7 linked regions of the Homo sapiens genome follow. The protein of the gene in region 4 purifies or fractionates together with the protein of the main gene of each other region. This does not show direct contact. Each region holds a gene or a part of one and is shown on either strand. Other genes may lie near its edges.

Region 1 (3,500 bases), on a different chromosome or scaffold from region 4:
ATGCTCATGGGTAGGAAGAATCAATATCGTGAAAATGGCCATACTGCCCAAGGTAATTTATAGATTCAATGCCATCCCCATCAAGCTACCAATGACTTTCTTCACAGAATTGGAAAAAACTACTTTAAAGTTCATATGGAACCAAAAAAGAGCCCACATCGCCAAGTCAATCCTAAGCCAAAAGAACAAAGCTGGAGACATCACACTACCTGACTTCAAACTATACTACAAGGCTACAGTAACCAAAACAGTATGGTACTGGTACCAAAACAGACATATAGATCAATGGAACAGAACAGAGCCCTCAGAAATAACACCGCATATCTACAACTATCTGATCTTTGACAAACCTGAGAAAAACAAGCAATGGGGAAAGGATTCCCTATTTAATAAATGGTGCTGGGAAAACTGGCTAGCCATATGTAAAAAGCTGAAACTGGATCCCTTCCTTACACCTTATACAAAAATCAATTCAAGATGGATTAAAGACTTAAACGTTAGACCTAAAACCATAAAAACCCTAGAAGAAAACCTAGGCATTACCATTCAGGACATAGGCATGGGCAAGGACTTCATGTCTAAAACACCAAAAGCAATGGCAACAAAAGACAAAATTGACAAATGGGATCTAATTAAACTAAAGAGCTTCTGCACAGCAAAAGAAACTACCATCAGAGTGAACAGGCAACCCACAAAATGGGAGAAAATTTTTGCAACCTACTCATCTGACAAAGAGCTAATATCCAGAATCTACAATGAACTCAAACAAATTTATAAGAAAAAAACAAACAACCCCATCAAAAAGTGGGCGAAGGACATGAACAGACACTTCTCAAAAGAAGACATTTATGCAGCCAAAAAACACATGAAAAAATGCTCACCATCACTGGCCATCAGAGAAATGCAAATCAAAACCACAATGAGACACCATCTCACACCAGTTAGAATGGCAATCATTAAAAAGTCAGGAAACAACAGGTGCTGGAGAGGATGTGGAGAAATAGGAACACTTTTATACTGTTGGTGGGACTGTAAACTAGTTCAACCATTGTGGAAGTCAGTGTGGCGATTCCTCAGGGATCTAGAACTAGAAATACCATTTGACCCAGCCCTCCCATTACTGGGTATATACCCAAAGGACTATTAAATCATGCTGCTATAAAGACACATGCACACGTATGTTTATTGTGGCACTATTCACAATAGCAAAGACTTGGAACCAACCCAAATGTCCAACAATGATAGACTGGATTAAGAAAATGTGGCACATATACACCATGGAATACTATGCAGCCATAAAAAATGATGAGTTCATGTCCTTTGTAGGGACGTGGATGAAATTGGAAATCATCATTCTCAGTAAACTATCGCAAGAACAAAAAACCAAACACTGCATATTCTCACTCATAGGTGGGAATTGAACAACGAGAACATATGGACACAGGAAGGGGAACATCACACTCTGGGGACTGTTGTGGGGTGGGAGGAGGGGGGAGGGATAGCATTGGGAGATATACCTGATGCTAGATCATGAGTTAGTGGGTGCAGCGCACCAGCATGGCACATGTATACATATGTAACTAACCTGCACATTGTGCACATGTACCCTAAAACTTAAAGTATAATAATTAAAAAAAAAAAAAAAAAAGAGTGTGAAACGGCCTTCATGAGGCTTAATTGTGGCTTAACCTGGCACCACCCCTCACAAGGTCAAAGCTATACATCAGCTCCTGTGACATTGACTCATCCCCCAGACCTTATCTAAAACAACGGAGCAAACACATGCTAGGAAGGGCACCCGGGAAATGGAAGGCATTGTTCTATCTCCTCACCTGATTCCATATCTCTGTATTCTGCCCCAAAATGCCTCCACTGGAAGCCATAAACTGGGCCCAAGTCCCCTTCTTCTCTGGTGGAGAATCCCAGGCTGTCCAAAAAGTCTCGGGATCCATTGGCATCCCAGATTTTCACTCCCTTGGAAGACAGCTCTTTAGCATTTGTGGATCCCTGGAAGAGATGGGGAGAGCAGAGCAGGCATCCAGGTAAATCCTAAGCCATCTCAGTTGATCCCCCCGAGACACCACTTACAAGGGCCTCTGGCCCCTGCTGACTTGCTAGGAGGTGGGCACTTGACACCACCCATATGGAACCCATCCTTTTTTTTGTTTTTTGAGAGTTTCGCTCTTGTTGCCCAGGCTGGAGTGCAATGGCGCGATCGTGGCTCACGGCACCCTCCACCTCCCAGGTTCAAGCGATTCCCCTGCCTCAGCCTCCCGAGTAGCTGGGATTACAGGCATGCGCCACTACACCCAGCTAATTTTGTATTTTTAGTAGAGACAGTGTTTCTCCATGTTGGTCAGGCTGGCCTCGAACTCCTGACCTCAGGTGATCCGCCCACTTCGGCCTCCCGAAGTGCTGGGATTACAGGCGTGAGCCACCACACCCAGCTGCCCATCCTATCTTTAAGTAGGCTGGTCCCAGCCCAGATTCCTGAGGGCTTTAGGACAGTCTGATCCCTTCTTTGGAACCACCCTCCCAGATCTTTTCTTCCATTCCCCTCAACTAAGCTTTTTAGGCTAAACACCTCCAAGTGCTTTTAAGTATTCCACCGATCTGACAGTTTTATGTTTCTTAATGAAATGTGTTGTCTATATGTAATACCCCAAAATGAATTTAATGCCTACATGCAATCTGTTCAATGTATCTTCTACCTGGCATACAGGATATTCCTAATGATCAGACTAATCAGTATTTTACAGTGCAGGTGCCTCAACTCCTGTATTTGATCGAGTCACCAATGGAGTAACTCCAACTATCAAGGTGAGTCTGACATTCCTGGCAAGGATTCCTTAGAATCCTGAATTGAAGCATTAAGTTGAAACAGGGGAATGCATTTTATTTCTGAGTATCTTGCTTCCTCCCTTTCTATTGTTGAGTTTGTCCCGATTTTCTTTGATTGAGAAAGAATCAAAGAAATTTCCAACAAATCAAAGAAATTTCTCCAATTGAGAAATTTCCAACAAATCATTTCTCAATCTTTTACATATTGCTTCAAAAGTCTCTCCTTTTCATCCATTCAGACCAGGCTCTAGCCAGTTTAAGAATGTTGTCTTCTGAGGTTTCTGATGATATGTTTCAAATCCAAGGTTCATTGTTAGTCAAGATAGGCCAATACAGAACAAAATACCCCAAGAATACAGAGCTAAGGCAGACCTGGGGCTGGATCCAAATTGAAGCCCTTTCTAAAATGGGATAAGAGGGCTTGGGTCTGGCTTGCCCCAAGACCATACAAGCCATACCAAGTGCTCTATAGAAGGGATCCCAGCTTCTAGTATGGCCCAGACCTGAGCCCAGACCTCAGCCACCTTCCAAAAAGCACTGGTCAGAAAGAACATCGCTGGTTCTAGACCAGGACACGGAACACAGAGAAGCTTGGTCTGGGCTGCTGCCTGTCTTCACAGCACTCTGGCCCCGGCCTGAGGTACCTACTCAGCCCTCTG
Region 2 (3,500 bases), on a different chromosome or scaffold from region 4:
TATAATTTTATTTAGAATCAGTACCATATGAAGATTTGATGGGGAAAGAATGGAAGAAAGACCTCTCCGGCCCACTGTTGCTACCATTTAATACCTATTCTCTTATACCATAAATGGGGTAAAGAAGGGGCCCCAGTAAATTATTTTATATAGTTACATCTGAAGACAAAACAGATTATAGACTCGCAGTATATCATGATTTTCCATCTTGTCAAAAATCTGAAACCCTTGCACCCTAATTAGTGACCGTTGAGACAACCACTCTGAAAAAAACTAAAACCATAAAGTAATTTTATTGCTAGCAAGATCTTCATACGTTAATCAAGAGTATAAAGCTGAGCACAATGGCTCATATCTATAATCCCAGCATTCAGGAGGCCAAGGTGAGAGGGTCATTTGAGCCCAGGAGTTTGAGACCAACCTGAACAAAACAGGAAGACCCCGTCTATAGAAAACATAAAAGTAAATTAGCTGCGCGTGGTGGCACGTGCCTGTGGTCCCAGCTACTTGGGAGGCTGAGGTGGGGGGATCACTTGAGCCCAGGAGGTCAAGGCTGCAGTGAGCAGTGATTGTGTCACTGCATTCTACCCTGGGCACCAATGTGAGACCCTGTCTCAAAAAAAAAAAAAAAAATACACACACACACACACACAAATCATAGGCTTGGATTCTACTGATGGGTGGAAAAAAGAAATGTCTCAGTGGGACCTCCTAACTGCTCTCTCTGCTTCCACTCCCAGTCCCCTCAATTGTGTTCTCCTCATGAAAGCCAGAATGGTCTTTTAGAATACAAAGCAGCTCAATCCACTTCCCTGACTGAAATGCTTAAATAGCCTGCAAGGCCTTTATGATCTGGCCCTTTCTGCCTCTCCAAACTCAAATCCTTCCTACCACTTTTCCCCCTTTTACACTTCACTCCAATCACACTGACTTGCTTACTGATGCTTGAACAAAAGTCAAGCTTCATCCCACTTCTGGGCCTTTGCACATGTGCTCCCTCCAACTGAAAAGCTCTTCCACCAGACCTCTGCGTGTCACTTCACTCAGGCTTCTGCTTAAATGTCTTTTGGAAAGTCTCCCTGGCTCCCTATGTACAATTGTCTCTCAACCCCGGATTCCCTTGTCCCCAGCATGCTCTCTGACCCTTTGTTCTGCTGTAATTTTGTTCACAGCACCTGGTGCATTTTTATCTGTTTATTTAGCTTACTGCCCCCCAACTATTAGAATCTTTTCTTTTCAACTGTGGTTTTATATTCAGTGAAATACAGAGATTTCAAATGTCCAATTCAATGCATTTTGATAACTATATATACATATTTTTAACCATAACCCCAATTAAAACAGAAAATGTTCATCACCCCAGAAAAGTGATTCACAAAGCACATTTATTTTTTGGACACAGGGTCTCATATCATTGCCCAGGCTGCAGTGCAGTGGCACAATCATGGCTCACTGCAGCCTCAACCTCCCAGGCTCAAGCGATCCTCCCACTACCTTAGGCTCCAGAGTAGCTGAGACTACAGGTGCATGCCACCACACCCATCTAATTTTTAAATTTTTTGTAGAGACAAGATCTCCCTACGTTGTCCAGGCTGGTCTTGAACTGGGCTCAAGCAATCTTTCTGCCCTGGCCTCCCAAAGTGTTGGGATTACAGGTGTGAGCCACCACACCTGGCCAGCAAACACTTTTTTTTTTTTTTTTGAGACAGAGTCTCGCTCTTGTTGCCCAGGCTGGAGTACACTGATGAGATCTCAGCTCACTGCAATCTCCACCTCCCAGGTTCAAGCGGTTCTCCTGCCTCAGCCTCCCAAGCAGCTGGGATTACAGGTGCCCACCACCATGCCCAGCTAATTTTTTGTATTTTTAATAGAGATGGGGTTTCACCATGTTGGCCAGGCTCGTCTTGGACTCCTGACTTCATGTGATCTGCCCTCCTCGGCCTCCCAAAAGTGTTGGGATTACAGGTGTGAGCCACCGCGCCTGGCCCCAGCCAGCACACTTTTAATCACTCAGCAACACTGCCTTGTTGTCTCTAAAAAGTTGGTAATAATATCTTACGTGCCTTCCTAACTTGAAAGGCAGCATATTTGCTGTTTTAAGTTACAAGAAAATTCTAACTTAAACTACCAGGTGTTATTCCAAAGCTCCCCAAAAACTTCAATGGTCAGACCTCAACAACTAAGCCATAACAAAACCAAAGGCATCTGAGGCGGAGTCTTACTCTGTTGCCCAGGCTGGAGTGCAGTGGTGTAATCTTGGCTCACTATAACCTCTGCCTCCTGGGTTCAAGTGATTCTCCTGCCTCAGCCTCCCGAATAGCTGGGATTACAGGTATGTTCACCATGCCCAGCTAATTTTTGTATTTTTAGTAGAGACGCGGTTTCACTATGTTGGCCAGGCTGGTCTCGAACTCCTGACCTCAGGTGATCCACCCGCCTCAGCCTCCCAAAGTGCTGGGATGAGCCAGCATGCCCGGCCCTGTATTTATTTCTAACTATACATTTAGAAAATATTAACTTAAATCATTATAGTCAACCATTTAATAGCCAAGGACTCTAGAAAACATCTTGTTCATGTGAATCCCTCAGCAACTCTTTCATTACCTGAGTTGTATTTAGTGCTGTGTTCACATTTTTAATAGCTTCTTCAAAATTCTCTTCATCTTCTGGAGCCCCATTTTCATTTTTTAGAATTCCTATTGTAATGGGAAATTGTTAGCAAACAGCCCTTTTCTTTTCACTCTTCTGTTCCCCCATTATAAAAATAACCTTGTCAGATCCTGCAGAATATTAAATCTTAAGAAGAAATACGGCTTATCATTAGTCCTTAAAACTATACAAGGCGTGGCTTCTTAACTTCTCCAGAAGGAAAATAAAAGCTCATGATGCTATCATCTGACAAAGGTGTTAACAGAAATCCAATAAGTACCTGCCTCTAGCAATTTGCTTTTCAAGCTTTATACAGTATTTAATCATATCCCATATTACCTTGTCTAATCAAATCTCTGAAGTCCTCTTTTTCTTTATACGTTTTAGGTATTCGTCCATTTGTCTAAATTGGTTAAAAATTTTAAAAATCTAGTTATTAAAATTCAAAATACAGAAATTGAAAGTCTAAAGTGTCCCCCATTCTCTACATAAGATTTCATCAACAAATATATTTCTCTGTGAAATCAGAGGCTCACTTGATAGAAAACAGACACTGTGACCATTTATCTACATTCATTCCCCCTGCCAGTTTCATAATGACATTTATTGAATTTCATTTTAATTAAAATTATCAGGATCAAAAGAGGAACTGCTAGATTTAAATTTAAAAGCATCCATTTGCCCTACCATACAACTCCATAAGGAAAAAAAATTAATCTCCCATTCCCCATCAAGGAAATCCTTTGTAAGAAACTGAAAATACAGTTGCATATGAAATTTTTTTTAAAAAAGGACATACTTCACTATACCACTGTGCTAAATATTTAGCTATGATCACAATCCATGGAGTA
Region 3 (2,857 bases), on a different chromosome or scaffold from region 4:
GATTCTCCTGCTTTGGCCTCCCAAAGCACTGGGATTATAGGCATGAGCCACTGCACCCAGCCTCAAAATAGTTAAAAAAATTAAACCCTTCTTTTAACTTCTATATCTACCTCCTTAATTGGCTATATTGCCCTAAGATATTCCATTATATTAACTTTAAAAAAAAAAAAACCTATATGTATTTTTGCATACCTTGCAATAATATCCCTCATCACAAATCTGCCTTAATCTTTATAACAGCTGTATCCTCGTTTGGATCTCAGGTACAGCCCCAACATGACAATTTATTGCTCATCTGTTCATTCCTACCCTTTTTCCTGTAAGTGCTCCATTTTCATAAAATCTTATTTTTCACTCTGATGATGGTTGCTATGCTTGTGGCCTTCCTGCAGGCTCTTGTGAGGACTGAATGTGAGGCTTTGCTTACCAGCTCTTTCTAAAATATATAAATAGCCCAGAGAGTCTTCTAAAATTGGGGGCTCAAATCCACAAATGACATGTTATTTGAAAATACTGGATTTAATAGAAAATATCACATTGTAAACAAATCCATTGATCCATGAGCTTAAAACAGAATGACGGCACAATCACATAGAAAAGCTAAAGACAAAACACTGGTACCAAACATAGCCCTTAGGCCTGGGCTAGGCTCTCAAAGGTCTTTCCCAGAAATGGAGGCAGCAGTAGCTTCAAACAGGCACAAAAACAGCCAGGAGGAGGCAGCATCCACTCCATGAAGGCCTAAGACAATGAAAGGAAGCCAGAGCAACAGACCACCTTGGGATCCGGGGAGAAGGGTAAATGGGCAAAAGGGTTGTATTTCCTGATGCTCTCAGAACATCAGACCACACCATGTGAATTTAAGCAGGACTATTTTAAGTGGGGAAACAATACTAGAAGCATTTGGTGTATTTTCCTGGCACTCACCTCCTAGGTAAGCAGGAGAGCGGGACACTCAGGAGTTGTGACTAAACTCACACTTAAGCTGCCTGCCCAGACCGTCCCCTTGGCTGAACACAACACTGAAATTGTGGCAGTGTCTGTTGCCCCAGTGGACCTCCCACTTACTAATGAGTATGTAAAACAGAGGAGCCACAGTGAGGCTTTCACAAAAACACAGGGCTCTGGGGGAAAAACGGCTTCCACCTTCTGCCTTTTGGTGCTGGAGAGTCCCTGAGGGAGAGAAGTTTGACGTGGCTGGGCCCCTTGAGGCTCTGGATTTATCAATAGAAGCCTCCTCTTTGGCCCCACCCACCCAAATCCACCCCCAGGTTCTCCTAGTTCAGAGAAAAGCTGTGAAAGTGGAAGAAGGAAGGGATCGTTTTCTTTCCATTGCACTTGTTACTGACCAAAGAGACTGCTTCCTTGCACTTATTTTAGATATTGAGAGTTTGTGCCTTCACTTGGAACAATGGTTCTCAACCAAGGGGCAGGCCTGTGCAAGAAGGACTCTCAAGACTCTTCAAAGAGGTGGTATCCAATATACATAAGCCCCTAATTCCCTCCCACTTGAAAATCAGTGCGTGTAAGGAGAGAAATTCCTGACGGGAGTGTGTCATATGTGTGAACCATGGCTGAAGCAGAACAAAAAGTTTAAAACTCCCAACCTGGGTTTGGCAGACATCAAAATGATGGAGTACATTTTGCAGATATTTTTTTTCTGATTAAGTTACAAACATTCTCCCTATAGCTAAACTCCGTGACTAGGCTCCCAGCCTCATGGCCAAGAACAATAAGTTCACCCACTTATCTGGAGTAACCATACTAGATTAAAGAAATACAATTCTTTCTTCTAAAGACAATTTCCAGAAAGACCTGCCTTTCCCTATGGGTACTTGACACTAGGTCCCAGCACAGGCTAATCGCTGTATGGTTTCTTCGAAGATTGGCTTTTCTCAGTTTCTTTCTCTTTGATACTGTACAAGGGGTCCACCAACTTGTTATGAACAAGCATTAAACCTACAAAAAATTAAAAACAAAAAGTAGTTAATTCAGGCAGTGGCAAGAGTTCCTTGATTATCAATCATAACATCCAGGAGCTCTCAAATTTTGTCTTAGAGCTGACACTTCTCTCTTTTCTCTATGATCCCCAAATGATAAACACCCTAAGAGTATAAAAAGAGTTATTCACAGTGAGTACTACATTCATGGAACTTTTATAAATTCAATCACTATGGGAGTTGGCTATTTAAAGGTTAGTCTTTTCAGCAAAGGACAAATTCCTAATTGACCTACTTGAGTAAAAGAGGATTTTCACATGTTTGCCTAAAGCAGTGTGCATCCTTTTAAAGTAAAAGAAGGGCTGGGCATCGTGGCTCACACCTATGATCCTAGCACTTTGGGAGGCCGAGGTGGGTGGATCACCTGAGGTCAGGAGTTTGAGACCAGCCTAGGCAACATGGCAAAACCCCGCCTCTACTAAAAATACAAAAATTAACTGGGTATAGTGGCGGGCACCTGTAATCCCAGCTACTTGGGAGACTGAGGCAAGGAGAATCACTTAAGCCCGGGAGGTGGAGGTTGCAGTGAGCTGAGATCACACCACTGCACTCCAGCCTGAGCGACAGAGTGAGACCCTGTCTCAAAAAGAAAGAAAGTAAATAAAAGAAAGGAATCGCTTGTTTAAGATTTGAAAAGAGAAAACCTGAGGCTTAATGGCACTGTGAGGTCACCACATAGTCCTTGGACCACATTGCGTTTTCTTTCCTCCTCCTCAGAGCAAACAGATCTCCAGAAATGGATCTTTGCAGTCACAGGCAGAAGAGAAATGACTGTGTAGTGTGATGCAGTTGGGTTTGATATTTCTTAAGATTACAGTTGTCAATTAAAATGACCAGAGGATGAAAGCTGGATCTAC
Region 4 (3,500 bases):
CTTCAGTGATATGTGACATATGACTATTAATAATCTACAATTCAATAAAATTGATGGTTTGAGGTCAAAAAAAAAAAAAAGTTAAAATAAATGACCAATGCTGGGTGCACTGGCTCATGCCTGTAATCCCAGCACTTTGTGAGGTTAGGACAGAAGGATTGCTTGAGCTCAGGAGACCAGCCTGGGCAAGATGGCAACATCTCATCTCTACAAAAAATAAGAATTAAAAAATAGCTAGGGGTAGTGGCGCACACCTGCAGTCCCAGCTACTCAGGAGGCTGAAGTGGTAGGACCGCTTGAGGCCAGGAGTCGAAGGCTACAATGAGCTATGATCATGTCACTGTACTCTGGCCTGGGCAACAGAGCAAGACCCTGTCTCTATAAAAAATAAATAAATAAATAAATAAAACTAATGACCACAAAAATAACTATGGTTACTTGAAAGTCTTTTGTTTGCCCCAGTGTATAAATTACAGTTAAAATATCAACTCTCAGAAATTGAGATAAGGATCTGACATGGGTAGCTAAAAGTAGAAACAATTCCGCCAGGTACAAATGTTCTTCCTTCTTTCCTCTATTTCTATGGGTTGAATTCTAAGCAACAAGGACTTAAATGCACAGGTGTGTTTTCTGGTTTTAGTTCCTATAATGAACAGCCCCTAAGCTGTCTGCCCAACAGTCCATCTCTTTCTGAGCACAGCTGCTGGCAACCCTGCCCACAGCTACAAGAGAATAAAAGAGACCACAAATACCTGGGCAGCCGCCTCCTCCTCAACATCAGGAATGAAGCACTCATTCTACATGGACTTACAGAACTTCTTAGAACCTGACACCAGTAGACACAATCTCCCAGGAGTTTGTTACTACAGAGACTGGCAATCTGGGGTCTTCCAGGCCATAGGCTAATTCATATCCACCCACCTCCCTGTCACTTGTGGGCCAAATAATTTAACAAATGCCAAGAGATAAGCTCAGGACACCAGGTGAAGAAAAGGCTAGCAGAGACCTCAGAGATGAACCAGCTCCATCTTGTATTCTGAGGCTCGGGACACTAGGAAAGAAGTGTAATATCTTGCTTAACGTCACACAGTGAGAAATGTTTGGTATTTAATTGTGGCAGCGGTCACATACTGTGAAATTTGTGAAAACTGGTCAAACTGTACTTTAAAAAGGTGAATTCTACTGTATACAAATTATGCCTCAATGAACCTAACTTTTTAAAGATGAAGTTAACTCCTAGTCTAGCAGTCTTTCTACTCAGCAGATTCTTGATAAGACAACATAAGAAATAATGTGAAAATACCCTGCAGGCTGCAAAAATATAGGCTGGTGGGTGGCAGTACCGTAACTTACCTCCTCTTCCCTGGAAATAATACCAATGGGGGAAAAGGAAAGGAAATAATCCAGTTTTGTAACAGCTATTAGAGTCTCACTAATCCAAAATGTGCCAACCTATTCAAGGCAAGAAGCAGCACAACTACTTTGAGTACCTGGTTCCAAAGATATTTTCTGATCATCATTAGTTTTAACAGCCCACCAGGGTACTGAGGAAACACTGACAAACACAAAAGACAAACATTTGGCAAATATTCCCTTTCAAGCTGTCCAATATCTAAGGCAGACGGATGTTTAAATATCATTTCGTAAAACAACAGTCCCCCGAAGGCGAGTCCAACAGCCCACTTACCTGCCCGTTCTTGGCGTAGCACACAGAGTTAGACTGAGTGTACTTGACAGCAATGGTGGCTACGATGAGGTCTCGGAGGGCAGACTCTGGCAACTGAAACACATACACAATGGTAAATTGCATGGGGCCTTTTAAACTCATTTAACTTTAAGCTTCTTTTTTTAAATATTATTTTTTGTGGTTTTTTTGAGTCAGAGTCTCACTCTGTCTCCCAGGCACAATGGGACAATCTCCAACGGCACAATCTCGGCTCACTGTAACCTCCACCTCCCGGGTGCAAGAGATTCTCACACTTCAATTACAGGCGCATGCACCACCATGCCTGGCTAATTTTTGTATTTTTAGTAGAGATGGGGTTTCACCATGTTGGCCAGGCTGGTCTCGAACTCCTGAGCTCAAGTCATCTACGTGCCTCAGCCTCCCAGAGTGCCAGGATTACAACAGGTGTGAGCCACCACACCTGGCCAACTTTAAGTTTCTTAGTTCTATTTAATGTAAAAGACCTACAACATAGTTATACCACTCAAATGACAGAGGGAAATTAACTGTTCTCCTACACACTACCATGATTTACTTAAATATTTAACACATTTGGGGTGGAACTTAGCACAATGCATCCATAGACACAAACTCATGTTATTTTGTAGCAATTGTGGATTAAGCCTTTTTATATCACATGAGGTAAGAACTACCATATCCATTCCAAAACTGACAAACAATATTTTCTTGACCAGAGTACTTTTAAATATCTGGAGACATGGTAAAATTTACGTTCAGAACCAATGCGGAGAATTGTTTCATAGACATCACAAATCGTTATGATGCACACAGACAGCCAAGACTTTGGAAAAATCAAATTACGATCATTTTCTCTTTTGTTTAGAATAACTTAAGTTGAAACTGTTCAAAAACCATTAGGAATTACCAGTCCAAATAGAACAACAAGAATAACGCCCAAAAATATCACTATCTTTAGTATCAGGCATGAATACAAATGGAAAAGAAGGATGATAGTCCACGTCTGTATGCTAAATGGACAGAGGATATTTGCTACAGCCAACAGATAAGTTGATAAATTTGACTTCAGTAAAATTAAGAACTTTTCCTCTGTAAAAGATTCCTCATTAAAGAGGATGAAAAGACAAGCTACGAACTAGGAGAAAATTATTAACAAACCTCATATCCAACAACAAACTAGCACCTAAAACATAAAAAAACTTTAAAAACTCTGTAACAGGACAGGCGCAGTGGCACATGCCTGTAATCCTAGCACTTTGGGAGGCCAAGGCGGGTGGACCACCTGAGGTCAGAAGTTCCAGGCCAGCCTGACCAACATGGTGAACCCCATCTCTACTAAAAATATAAAAATTTGCCAGGTGTGGTGGCGCATTCCTGTAATCCCAGCTACTTGGGAAGCTGAGACAGGAGAACCACTTGAACCCGGGTGGTGGAGGCTGCAGTGAGACAAGATCATGCCACTGCACTCCAGTCTAGGTGACAGAGCGAGACTTCATCTCAAAACAAAACAAAAAAACTCAGTAACAATCAAAAATTTAATTAGAAAATGGGCAAAAGACAGACATTTTCACCAAAAAGGATACACATGTAGCAAATAAGTACACAAAAAAATGTTCAACATCATGAGCTATTATGCAAATTAAAATCAGTGAGAGATTGCTACACAACTATCCCATGTCTTTAAAAAAAAAAAAAAAGTAGCAATACCAAAAGCTAGTAAGGATGCAGAGACATTGGATCACTCATCCATTGCTGGTGGGAATACAAAATGGTACAAGCCACTCTGGAAAACAAT
Region 5 (3,500 bases), on a different chromosome or scaffold from region 4:
CCTGTATGTTTTCAGGGTACCTGTGATAATTTGACATATTCGTATAACATAAAGGTAAAATCAGGGTAATTGGGATATTCATTACCATATTTATCTATTCTTTATGCTAAGCACATTCAAATTATTCTCTTCTAGCAACTTTGAGAGGTACAATAGATTTTTAACTATAGTTATCCTATTTATCTATTGAACGTGAGGTCTTACTCACATTTCCTCTTCATTTTACTCATTTTACTTCATTTTAACATCCAGAGCACCTCTGCATTTAACTTGTAACTTCTCTTATTGCTTATTGTCTCCCCCTTTTATTTTTCTAGACTTCCACAGCTGCTTTTTTTTTTTTTCCCTCTCTTTTGGAGTTAATGTTTCTCATGATTCTAGACATTATTGCTTGTTGTCTGTTTTTTTTCTTTTCTTTTTGGCAAAAGAAGTTTCCTCCTAAACTTTTTTGAAACTTAAAATGAGTCAGGAAGAAAGCCTGGAATGTGAGTCTCCCTCTTCCTCCCCCTCAACAGCCCTTACTTTGTATCGTACACAGAGTTTTGCAGGTGTGTATAATTTTTCGCTAACACCATTTAGGGTTGGGTCCATTTTTGTGTCTATAACAGATTGAGGTTGTCACTAAAATAAAATAAAAAATGAGGACGTTATTGCCTTGCAGCTCCTCTTTTCTCTTACCTGAGATATAATGTTTGCCAAGCAATCACAAACACATTGTCACCAAGGGATGAATTCTTATCCTTCTCTAAGCTTTAAAATAAGTTTTCAGTTATAAAGTAGGAAGAGTGCAGTGCAGAGAAAGCAATCTTTTAAAACAAAGTTCAGATCAATAACAACATTTCCTAGTGTCTATTTTTCTGTTAATGACTAAAGACAAGTACCAATTAGAGAAGCCTCAAACGTCTGGATTTCTGGTTGTAGCAAGTGGTGGGGCATGAGAACTATTCATAGTGCCATGGAGAAGTCCGGGTTGTTCTTAGCTACCTCTCTTCCATCTTGATCTTGCCTGAGGATACTTACATCTGCCCATTGCTTTGCCCTGAGGCTTTTCCTTTGTCCTTTATTCTTTATTACCCATTTCTAACTTCAGGAGGAAAACTCTGCCATCTTTAGTAAGGGATCTTTTATTTTTATGTTTGTCCTAACCAGCTCATTTTAGTCATCATTTTCTCATCAGGTTTTCCATTAACGCTTATGTTTAAATCGCCTGATCTCACTAGACTTTTTAATCCTCCCATTGCTCCTTCCTTATTGTTCTCAAGATCACACGAAACTGGCACTGAAGTCAGTCCCTTCAATAGCTAGCATTAAGATAGTTCTGCCTCTTCATTTTTTTTTTTAAACTCTTTTCATAGATTGTCTGAAAACATGTTTTCTTCTTTTGGTTTGTACTTCAAATATTTTCTTTCTTAGCTATTAACTCTGCTAACCAACTCTGAGAAAGCTTTGATTTTTGTATAGACGTTTTCAATACTGTTGAGTGTTGTTATTTTGACAAATGCTGCACATGCATTTTCTACAGTCTGAAAGCCATTTATATTAGGATGACAAAACATGGAATTGTTTATGTTTAGCTAGATTCTTGCTTATCGGAGTTGTTTTACCAGGACATATTCATTCTGTTAGTTCTGAGAGTTATGATATAATTGTCCTTGGTAATGAAGCTTTGTCTTGATTTGGTGTTTTCTGTTGAAACATTCTTTGATGGAACCAAAAGAAAATAGTGGCGGGTTTCCATCAGCATTTTCAGTTTAAGTGAGCAATACTTTTTTTTCTTCCTTTTTTATTATGTTCTTTGCCCCTGCTAGAGGGTAAGGCAGGAAGACCAAAGGAAGCTGCTGTCACAATCATAGCAAGAGATTTGAGGGCCTGACCTTTTGGAGCAATATTAGGCATGAAAAATAATTCACATTATTATTTTCAAATGTGCAGGCAAGAAGGGTTTGCTTAGTTTAGTTCATAATGTGACTGCTTTTAGGGTTTAGAAACTTCAGTTTTTCTTAGACTCTCTATTTTCTTTTTAACATGCCCTCTTTGGTACATGTCAAACTAATTGTGAGATTTATCACATGCTCCACTTATGATTTTCTAGTTTTAGAAACTTAGTGTTTATCACATCTTCTGAAAAAATAACATTGTGGGTTTCAGTTTTGATTATAAAAGTAAAAGGAAAACAAAAACCACTTGTACTATTACCCAGAGATAACAATTCTTAGCATTTCCGTGTGTTTCCTTTTATTTTCTGTAGGTATATAAATAATTGTCTATCCCAAAGTGCATTTCTATAAATTTTTATTTACTTATACAAAATCTTGCATTTTATGAAACATGAAATTATGAGATCATTAAATATTATGAGTGCATAATATTGATTAATCACATGGCTACACCATGTTTATTTGACCATTTCCCTATTGCTGACATTAAAGTTGTTTTCAATTCATTATTATAATAAATTTTGTGATTAGTGTTTTCATGAATAATAAATCTTCATGTCTATCCTCAGGATACTGGATTAATGTATAAACACATTTTTAAAGTCAAGAACTTCTTTGAAGGCTAAAACTGAATATGGAAAGATGTGAATGAGCCCTAATGGCTGAAAGTTCCAACCAGTTGAAGAGGTAGCAGTAGTGCTTAGCTGCTCTGCATTCCCCACCTCCACCTCGAATAGAAAATACTGGAGCATACAGAGTTTTCAAGGGGAGGACATAGAGTGCAGTGGCAAGGGGTCTTCGGCCCCACTTTCCCTGTCTCCTCACTCATCCCCAGATGCCTCTCTACCCAGTAGTTCAACTTGGATGCCGACATATTTTCTGACCTTTCCTTGGAATTTTTGTTTGATTTTTCTGTTTATCAAAGAAGATAGCTTTTATCCACCATGTCCTTGCCTTTTTCAGCTATTTGTGAGCATTGCACAATAAGTAAAATGTCTTCTGTAAGCCCTGGTATTCTTGCACTGTAGGAGGAGCCTAGTGAAGGCATATAGTAGTAGAACAGCATAAGAAGGGCTACTTAACCTCACAGATTTCCAGATTTCAGTGATTAGTTTAGGAAACAAAAATCAATACTACTATCCTTGTATAAGTCAGTTCATGGAAGCAAACGTTTGTTTTGGACACTGTATCTGTTAAGCTGAGTACTCACAACTTAAAGGTGTGTATGTTTGTGTGCGTGCGTGTCACCAGAAAGCTAATTCTTTCACCACAACAATGTTGAGTTTAGTTTTTCTTGATCCTTGTTCTTTTGAACTGTTTTATGTTGATAGAAAAATTGTCTTTTAAATTAATTCTAAAATAACAGACTAATGTGGAGGCATTTCATATTGCTATATGACCTTATTCTTGGTGAATGACTTTGATTCTAATTAAATTGAGTATTTCTAGTTATTAATTAATATTTCAGTTTTGAAGTTTCCATATTGGAATTAATTATCTGTCTTTAAGTAAATTATTTCAGCAATTGCAGTTGTATCACGATCCTAGGAAGCTAACAAGAAT
Region 6 (3,500 bases), on a different chromosome or scaffold from region 4:
TCAAGACCAGCCTGACCAGCCTGGCCAACATGATGAAACCCCATCTCTACTAAAAATACAAAAAATTAGCCAGGCATAGTGGCAGGTGCCTGTAATCCCAGCTACTCAGGAGGCTGAGACAGAAGAATCACTTGAAACTGGGAGGCGGAGTTTGCAGTGAGCCGAGTCTGCGCCACTGCACTCCAGCCTGGGCGACAGAGTGAGACTCTATCTCAAAAACAAAAACAAAAACAAAACAAAAAAAAACTGAAATAAAATAACTGGATTGTTTGTAACACAAAGAATAAATGCTTGAGGTGATGAATACCCCATTTACAGGGATGTGATTATTACAGGTTGTATGGCTGTATCAAAAGATCTCATGTACCCTATAAATATATATACCTACCATGTACCCATACAAATTAAAAATTAAAAAAACTCCCTTCCTCTTGGGATAATGGATTAATAGATTGTGAAAAGCACAGATATTCCTGGATAGCCTCCAGTTCCATCCATATTGCTGCAAACGACGTGGTTTAGGATATGTAATTGCTCCTAGGATATGTAATTGCTCCCACAAATTCTGTATCTTGTGATCTAGCATTGTAGTAGAAACAGTATAACATTATGTTAAAACTGACTGATGAGAAATAAGCTGCTTAATTAAGCAAGAAAAACTGACCCTCTCAAGAACAAACCACTATGCTATGACTCTTACAATAGTTTCTTTAAAAAAAAAAAATTTTAGATTCGGGGGTACACACGCTTGTTTATTACATGGGAATGTTGTATAATGGTGGGGACTGGGCTTCTAGTGTACCTATTACCTACATAGTGAACATTATACCTGATAGAAAAATTTTCAACCCTCACCTCTTCTCCCACACTTCCCTGTTTTGTATCTATTGTTTCCATCTTTTTTTTTTTTTTTTTTTTTGAGATGGAGTCTTGCTCTGTCTCCAGGCTGGAGTACAGTGGTGCAATCTCAGCTCATTGCAACCTCTGTCTCCAGGGTTCAAGCAATTCTCCTGTCTCAGCCTCCAGAGTAGCTGGACTACAGACGTGTGCCACCATGCCCAGCTAATTTTTGTATTTTTAGTGGAGACAGGGTTTCACCATGTTGGCCAGGATGGTCTCGATCTCTTGACCTTGTGATCCGCCCGCCTCAGCCTCCCAAAGTGCTAGGATTACAGGCGTGAGCCACAGCACCCGGCCCTATTGTTTCCATCTTTATGTCCACATGTACCCACTGTTTAGCTCCCACTCATAAGTGAGAACATGCAATATCTGGTTTTCTGTTTCTGAGGCAGTTCACTCAGGATAATGGCCTCCAGTTCCATCCATATTGCTGCAAATGATGTGGTTTTATTCTTTTTTATGGCTGCATCTTACAATAGCTTCTTTGCTTTATTATCAACTTGGGCCTAAAGTACATTAAAACCTTAAGATCGACCTGTAAAGCAATTAAACTTCTGGGAATGAATCCTGAAGAAGTATCAGAGCTGGTTGTGGTGCTGCATGCCTGCAGTCCCAGCTACTCGGGGGGCTAATAAGGCGGAAGGATTGCTTGAGGCCAGAGCTGGAAGCTGCAGTGTACTATGACTGCATCTGTGAATAGCTACTGTACTCTAGCCTGGGCAACATAGCAAGACTGTCTCAAAAAGAATCACTATGATCTTGGCCATCAAATAAAAAAAAATCACATATGCATTTAAGAACATACTGAATATTTGCAAGAATGTTCATAGCAGTGTTACTTACAATAGAGGGAAAAAAATCAGGCTACATCCATCTGAGAGAATACAATACTCTTATTACTTTACCCCTCTATCCATAAAGGTTAAACATAAACTTCTTCTAATTAATAAGATAACAATAAAAATTCCTCAACTGTTTTCAGACTTTTCAACAACAAAGCTATGATACAAAATGAGCTGTAGCTTCTATCTTTTCTGGTTTCTCTTTAACCAGCTTTCTGACATCCTTTACTTTTTTCTTTGGGAGCTGTCTCAAATTCCTAAGAAAAGTGGAAAGACTAAGAATGCTGAAAAGACAAAGACAACCCTCATGATTCCCCCCAGTCCCTAGACTCTGCCGAGAGTAACCTTACAATCTCACAAGAGTGCGGGGAGGAAAGGAAGGGCAGTCAACAGCTCTACAGTGAAGGGGAAGCCACATCTCACCTGTTCCAGATATTAAGACAGCCACTCTGGCCTTTTTTTTTTCAAAAGAGAAATGATTTGTCAGGGAGCCATTCTTCAACACTGACCCATTTATTTGCATGCTTTCAATCAGATTCTTGACTTTCACACGTGGGGAACCTTCATTTCAAACATATCCATAAATAAGTAAAGAACAATTGTGAATTAACAAGAATAATGGAAAGAAAAATATTTTATGAAAACTTTAGGGTATGTTTTATCCTGAAAATAAGATAATGCAAGGACTAAAATGAACAACACATTTGTATCACTTAACACTACTCTTTCATAAAAACTTCCAAAAGGTGAACATATGTAATTACTTCAACTAAAAGCTGCAGATCACATCACTATCTTGAAGTGCACGGTGGATATATATGACTGCCTGCCAGTATTCTGCCCCTACTCCCCAAATCTTCCTAGCGAGACCACCCACAGTAGTGCCATGATCTCCTGGTCTCGGGGATAAGCATGTGACCTAGCAAAGCCATTTAAAGGCTTGATATGCGATGTTAAGAAAAAGAGGGTCTCTCTTTTTTTTCTTTTTGAGATGGAGTCTCGCTCTGTTGCCCAGGCTGGAGTGCAGTGGCGCGATCTCGGCTCACTGCAAGTTCCGCCTCCTAGGTTCACGCCATTCTCCTGCCTCAGCCTCCCGAGTAGCTGGGACTACAGGCGCCCGCCACCACGCCCGGCTAATGTTTTGTATTTATTAGTAGAGACGGGGTTTCACTGAGTTAGCCAGGATGGTCTTGATCTCCTGACCTCGTGATCCACCCGCTTCGGCCTCCCAAAGTGCTGGGATTACAGGCGTGAGCCACCACGCCCGGCTGGGTCTCTCTTTCTTATTGTAATGTGAGCTGAAGGATGTTATCTTTCCGGCATTTGGAGAACCCGCTTGAAAATGAATCCTACACAATAGAGGAAAGAAAGGCAGATACAGGTAAAGTCAACAAGGTCTGACATTTTTTTTTTCTATTTTTTATTTTTGTGAATCTTCTCTGTATCGTTCCAATTTTAGTATGTGTCCTGCCAAAGCAAGCATGTGACGTCTTTGTTAGTGAATCTGAGTGGATTTTCTGCCCCTCTGCCAAGTTCTAGCACTTCTCGCAGAGTCCTGACTGATACAGTACTTGTCAGGGTGCTTGCTCGCTATTCCTTGAATCGAGCTGAGTGACAGCAGAGCCATGAGGTCTTGTGTGTAGGGAGATTACTTTGGGAAGCGATCCTGTGGGGTGTGGCTGTGCATGCATGAATGCTTAGTTCTGAGGCAGAAATGAAGAGATACGTGGTATCGCTGGGGTGGGTGCTGTCATGTTA
Region 7 (3,500 bases), on a different chromosome or scaffold from region 4:
AGTAAAAGATTTGCAGCAAGTTAACCATTTTAAGATAAGAAGACGTAAATAACATAACTTTTTTCCACTTCCTGCTGGCAGCAGAAGAGCTAAGTAACAGAGAGAGCCTCCTTCACCTGTAACTCCTCTTCAGGAGGCAGGGAGCCACGGGAAAGGTGACCACGCTCCCTTCCCCACTCTAGCAAAGCTACTTCATGTGGATGGGCCTCTTTTGATATCCCTGGGCCTGAGCCCGGCCACGCTCTGCAGCTCACGCACTACACAACAGCGGCCAGAAGGTGGCGCCGGGGAGGCATCCACTCCCGACCGCCTTTTGCTAAATCGCGCAAAAGCATGGTCTGGACAAAGCATCTCTCAGCTCCATTGTTCCCAGAGGCAGCTGGCCACTGCCTTTTGAGTTTATGTCCTTTTGTGTTGTCCTAAGTCAATATTTAAAGGCGTTTTTAACTCTAAAAGTAGTTGAAAATACCACAATGAGGAACCATTAACCCAAGAAGGAATCATTAGTATAACTTTATGATCCACTTCAGATGGTCCCAGGCCTAACGATGGTTCCACTTTCATTTTTTGACTTTACAATGGTGCACAAGCGACACTCATTCAGTAGAAACTGTTCCCCAAGTACCCAGACAACCATTCTGTTTTTCACTTTCAGTACAGAATTCAATAAACTGCATGAGACATTCAAGACTTTATTATAAAATAGGCCTTGCGTTAGATGATTTTGCCCAACTGTAGCCTGATGCAGGTGTTTCGGGTCGGCCAGGTGAGGCTATGATGCTTGGTAGGTGAGGTGGATTAAATGCATTTTCGACTTGAGATATTTTCCATTTATGATGGGTTTATCAAGACTTAGCCCCATTGTAAGTAGAGGAGCATCTGCATTATTTTTAAAGGCTATATTTCCTATGTGTCTTTTTTGTTTTCGTTTATCTATTGGTCTGAATGCTTCTATATCATGAATTTAGCAAGCAGTTTCTATATACAGATATAATGTTATTTCATTGCTGTAGTAACTTTGGTTTGTTTTGGCCAAAAATGTATAAATTGCTATTTCGATTTTAGAGTGTGTTTTCCTTGGCTTTCTTTCCTTTTTTTTTTTTATTTTTTATTTTAAGAGACAAGGTCTCACTCCCTGTCATCCAGGTTGGAGTGCAGTGGTGCATTCACAGCTCACTGCAGCCTCAAACTTCTGGGCTCAAGTGATTCTCCTGCCTCAGCCTCCTGAGAGGCTGGGACCACAGGCATGTGCCAGTACACCCAAGTAATTTTTTTCTTTTTCTTTTGACAGAGTCTCACTCTGTTGCCTGGGTTGGAGTGCAGTGGCACAATCTTGGTTCACAGCAACCTCCACCTCCCGGGTTCAAGCGATTCTCCTGCCTCAGCCTCCTGAATATCTGGGACTACAGGCGCCCACCACCACGCCCAGCTAATTTTTGTATTTTTAGTAGAGACGGGGTTTCACCATATTGGCCAGGCTGGTCTCGAACTATTGACCTCATGAGCCACCCACCTCGGCCTCCCAAAGTGCTGGGATTATAGGCGTGAGCCACCACGCCCAGCCTTAAAATTTTTTATAGAGACAAGGTCTCTCTATGTTGCTTAGGCTGGTCTCGAACTCCTGGGCTCAAGCCATCTGCCCATCTTGGACTCCCAAAGTGCTAGGATTACAGGCGTGAGTCATCGCATCTGGCTGCCTTTGCTTTCTTTCTTAGTGTGTGTGCATGTTTGTGTACAGTTAGAGCAATTTGTATCTTGGAAAAATCAGTCTTTCTTTCTTTCTTTCTCTTTCTTTTTCTTTTTTTTTTTTTTTGAGACAGGGTCTTGCTCTGTCACCCAGGCTGGAGTGCAGCGGCATGATCATGGCTCACTGCAGCCTTGACCTTCTTGGGCTCAAGCGATTTTCCCACCTCAGCCTCCGGAGTAGCTAGGACTACAGGTGCACGTGACCACGCCCAGCTAATTTTTGTATTTTTTGTAGAGACAGGGTTTTGCCATGTTGTCCAGGCTGGTCTCGAACTCCTGAGCTCAAGTGATCTGCCTGCCTAAGCCTCCCAAAGTGTTGGGATTACAGGCATTAGCCACCACCAGAAAAATATTTTCATAGATGTTGCTCATAAAAATCTTGTGTGATATTGATCATCATTACATTAAAAAAACAAAAAAAGCTATCCCCTTCATCCTAGGTGAAGAAATGGAGAATTTAGATTAGGTGGCTTTCCCAAAGTCACACCACTGGGACCCAGACCTCTTGACTCCCGGTGACATCCTCTGGTTAACTGCATGACAAACCTCCACCTCTATTTTCAGATTCTTAAAACCCATTTCCATAAGATGGGCAGTCTTCACATTATTGGGGGTTGTGTTACACTGGATGGGGAGGCTTGTGATTGTTGTCACTCTTCCACCCCTCCCTTCTGCATGGAGTAAAAATGCACAAGGCAGATTTACCATAGACGGACACCCCTGCCCTGAATTCTGAGTATTTCATCATCAAATGATGGACAGCAGTTCCACCCCAGCAGAATCCCACGATGCCAATTTTCTGGGCATGACACTGTTGTTTCAGATACTTCAAGATAGCACTGATCTCTCTAGAACAGAAAGAAAAAATATTCAAGAATCAGGCTTATTTTGTGAACCCCTCAAAGAGCTGTGCTGATGATAACAGGGCTGTATCAGCAACTGTTTTTGAAGTTGCCAAGGTTTCTTCTTTTGGGAGCTCCACCCTTACTACCTCTGGCCCAACTGATGCATCATCCCAGCACATCTTCCTGCCAAGCCCAGCCCTCCTCCAACTGCCTGACAGCTGCAGGCAAGCTGGGCTCTTCCCAAAACATAGGTCCAACTGCCTCACTCCCAGCTGAGAGCTGAGCAGTCTTCCACAGCCTGGGGATGAAGGCCACAGCCCACAGCACGGTTCGTAAGACCCGAGTCCATGATCTGCTCCCTGCAGAGTGCCCCAGTCTTCTCTGTCCCCTGAGTCTCCCAGGAGAAGAGTCTCCTCTCTCCTCTCTCCCATGAGCAGCCATAACTATGGGCAGACGCCCAGACACTCTCTGACTTCACACGTTCACTCTCTCCCCAAAACTCCCCACTCTGCATTGCTCGTCTCCTCCCCCTGCCGCCCAGTGAAGCCAAATTTGGAACGCCATCAGGACTATTTCAGCCATGAGGGGACCAAGAATAGTGGCCCTTGTCTGGCAAATGATTCATGTGCAAACTGATTGTTTGGAACTCAGAATACATTTTCAACTAGAAGCAATGTACCAAAGTGGAGGTGGGCTGCACACGTATGTTTATTGTAGCACGATTGCAAAGATATGCAACCGAAGCGCCCATTGACCAATGAGTGGATAAAGAAAATGTGGCCTATATACACCATAGACTATACTCAGCCATAAGAAAGAACAAAATAATATCTTTTGCAGCAACTTGGATGGAGCTGGAGGTCATTTCTCTAAGGGAAGTAACTCAGGAATGGAAAACCAAATACTGTA

Evidence for each region.
Region 1: the proteins of ATIC (region 4) and TYMS fractionate together in Homo sapiens (co-fractionation; one large-scale study listed by BioGRID). This does not show direct contact.
Region 2: the proteins of ATIC (region 4) and NAE1 fractionate together in Homo sapiens (co-fractionation; one large-scale study listed by BioGRID). This does not show direct contact.
Region 3: the proteins of ATIC (region 4) and GNPDA1 fractionate together in Homo sapiens (co-fractionation; one large-scale study listed by BioGRID). This does not show direct contact.
Region 5: the proteins of ATIC (region 4) and OXCT1 fractionate together in Homo sapiens (co-fractionation; one large-scale study listed by BioGRID). This does not show direct contact.
Region 6: the proteins of ATIC (region 4) and GART fractionate together in Homo sapiens (co-fractionation; one large-scale study listed by BioGRID). This does not show direct contact.
Region 7: the proteins of ATIC (region 4) and CMBL purify together in Homo sapiens (affinity purification with mass spectrometry; one large-scale study listed by BioGRID and IntAct). This does not show direct contact.

Annotation. Positions count from the first base shown.
Region 1 is NC_000018.10:660,653-664,152, reverse strand, and holds part of TYMS (thymidylate synthase), read right to left. Parts: intron 2,008-3,500; coding exon 1,833-2,007; intron 1,168-1,832; exon of another isoform or gene 1,148-1,167; coding exon of another isoform or gene 1-1,147. Other genes in the region: ENOSF1 (mitochondrial enolase superfamily member 1), read left to right, coding at 1-1,147. UniProt on the Homo sapiens protein: Catalyzes the reductive methylation of 2'-deoxyuridine 5'-monophosphate (dUMP) to thymidine 5'-monophosphate (dTMP), using the cosubstrate, 5,10- methylenetetrahydrofolate (CH2H4folate) as a 1-carbon donor and reductant and contributes to the de novo mitochondrial thymidylate biosynthesis pathway.
Region 2 is NC_000016.10:66,813,977-66,817,476, forward strand, and holds part of NAE1 (NEDD8-activating enzyme E1 regulatory subunit), read right to left. Parts: coding exon 3,449-3,500; intron 3,053-3,448; coding exon 2,989-3,052; intron 2,697-2,988; coding exon 2,605-2,696; intron 1-2,604. UniProt on the Homo sapiens protein: Regulatory subunit of the dimeric UBA3-NAE1 E1 enzyme. E1 activates NEDD8 by first adenylating its C-terminal glycine residue with ATP, thereafter linking this residue to the side chain of the catalytic cysteine, yielding a NEDD8-UBA3 thioester and free AMP.
Region 3 is NC_000005.10:142,000,171-142,003,027, forward strand, and holds the end of GNPDA1 (glucosamine-6-phosphate deaminase 1), read right to left. Parts: intron 1,960-2,857; coding exon 1,859-1,959; 3' UTR 501-1,858; downstream 1-500. UniProt on the Homo sapiens protein: Catalyzes the reversible conversion of alpha-D-glucosamine 6-phosphate (GlcN-6P) into beta-D-fructose 6-phosphate (Fru-6P) and ammonium ion, a regulatory reaction step in de novo uridine diphosphate-N-acetyl-alpha-D-glucosamine (UDP-GlcNAc) biosynthesis via hexosamine pathway.
Region 4 is NC_000002.12:215,343,059-215,346,558, reverse strand, and holds part of ATIC (bifunctional purine biosynthesis protein ATIC), read right to left. Parts: intron 1,781-3,500; coding exon 1,688-1,780; intron 1-1,687. UniProt on the Homo sapiens protein: Bifunctional enzyme that catalyzes the last two steps of purine biosynthesis.
Region 5 is NC_000005.10:41,807,926-41,811,425, reverse strand, and holds part of OXCT1 (succinyl-CoA:3-ketoacid coenzyme A transferase 1, mitochondrial isoform 3 precursor), read left to right. Parts: intron 1-3,500. UniProt on the Homo sapiens protein: Key enzyme for ketone body catabolism.
Region 6 is NC_000021.9:33,507,618-33,511,117, forward strand, and holds part of GART (trifunctional purine biosynthetic protein adenosine-3), read right to left. Parts: intron 2,304-3,500; coding exon 2,166-2,303; intron 1-2,165. UniProt on the Homo sapiens protein: Trifunctional enzyme that catalyzes three distinct reactions as part of the 'de novo' inosine monophosphate biosynthetic pathway.
Region 7 is NC_000005.10:10,283,903-10,287,402, forward strand, and holds part of CMBL (carboxymethylenebutenolidase homolog), read right to left. Parts: intron 2,595-3,500; coding exon 2,452-2,594; intron 1-2,451. UniProt on the Homo sapiens protein: Cysteine hydrolase. Can convert the prodrug olmesartan medoxomil into its pharmacologically active metabolite olmerstatan, an angiotensin receptor blocker, in liver and intestine. May also activate beta-lactam antibiotics faropenem medoxomil and lenampicillin.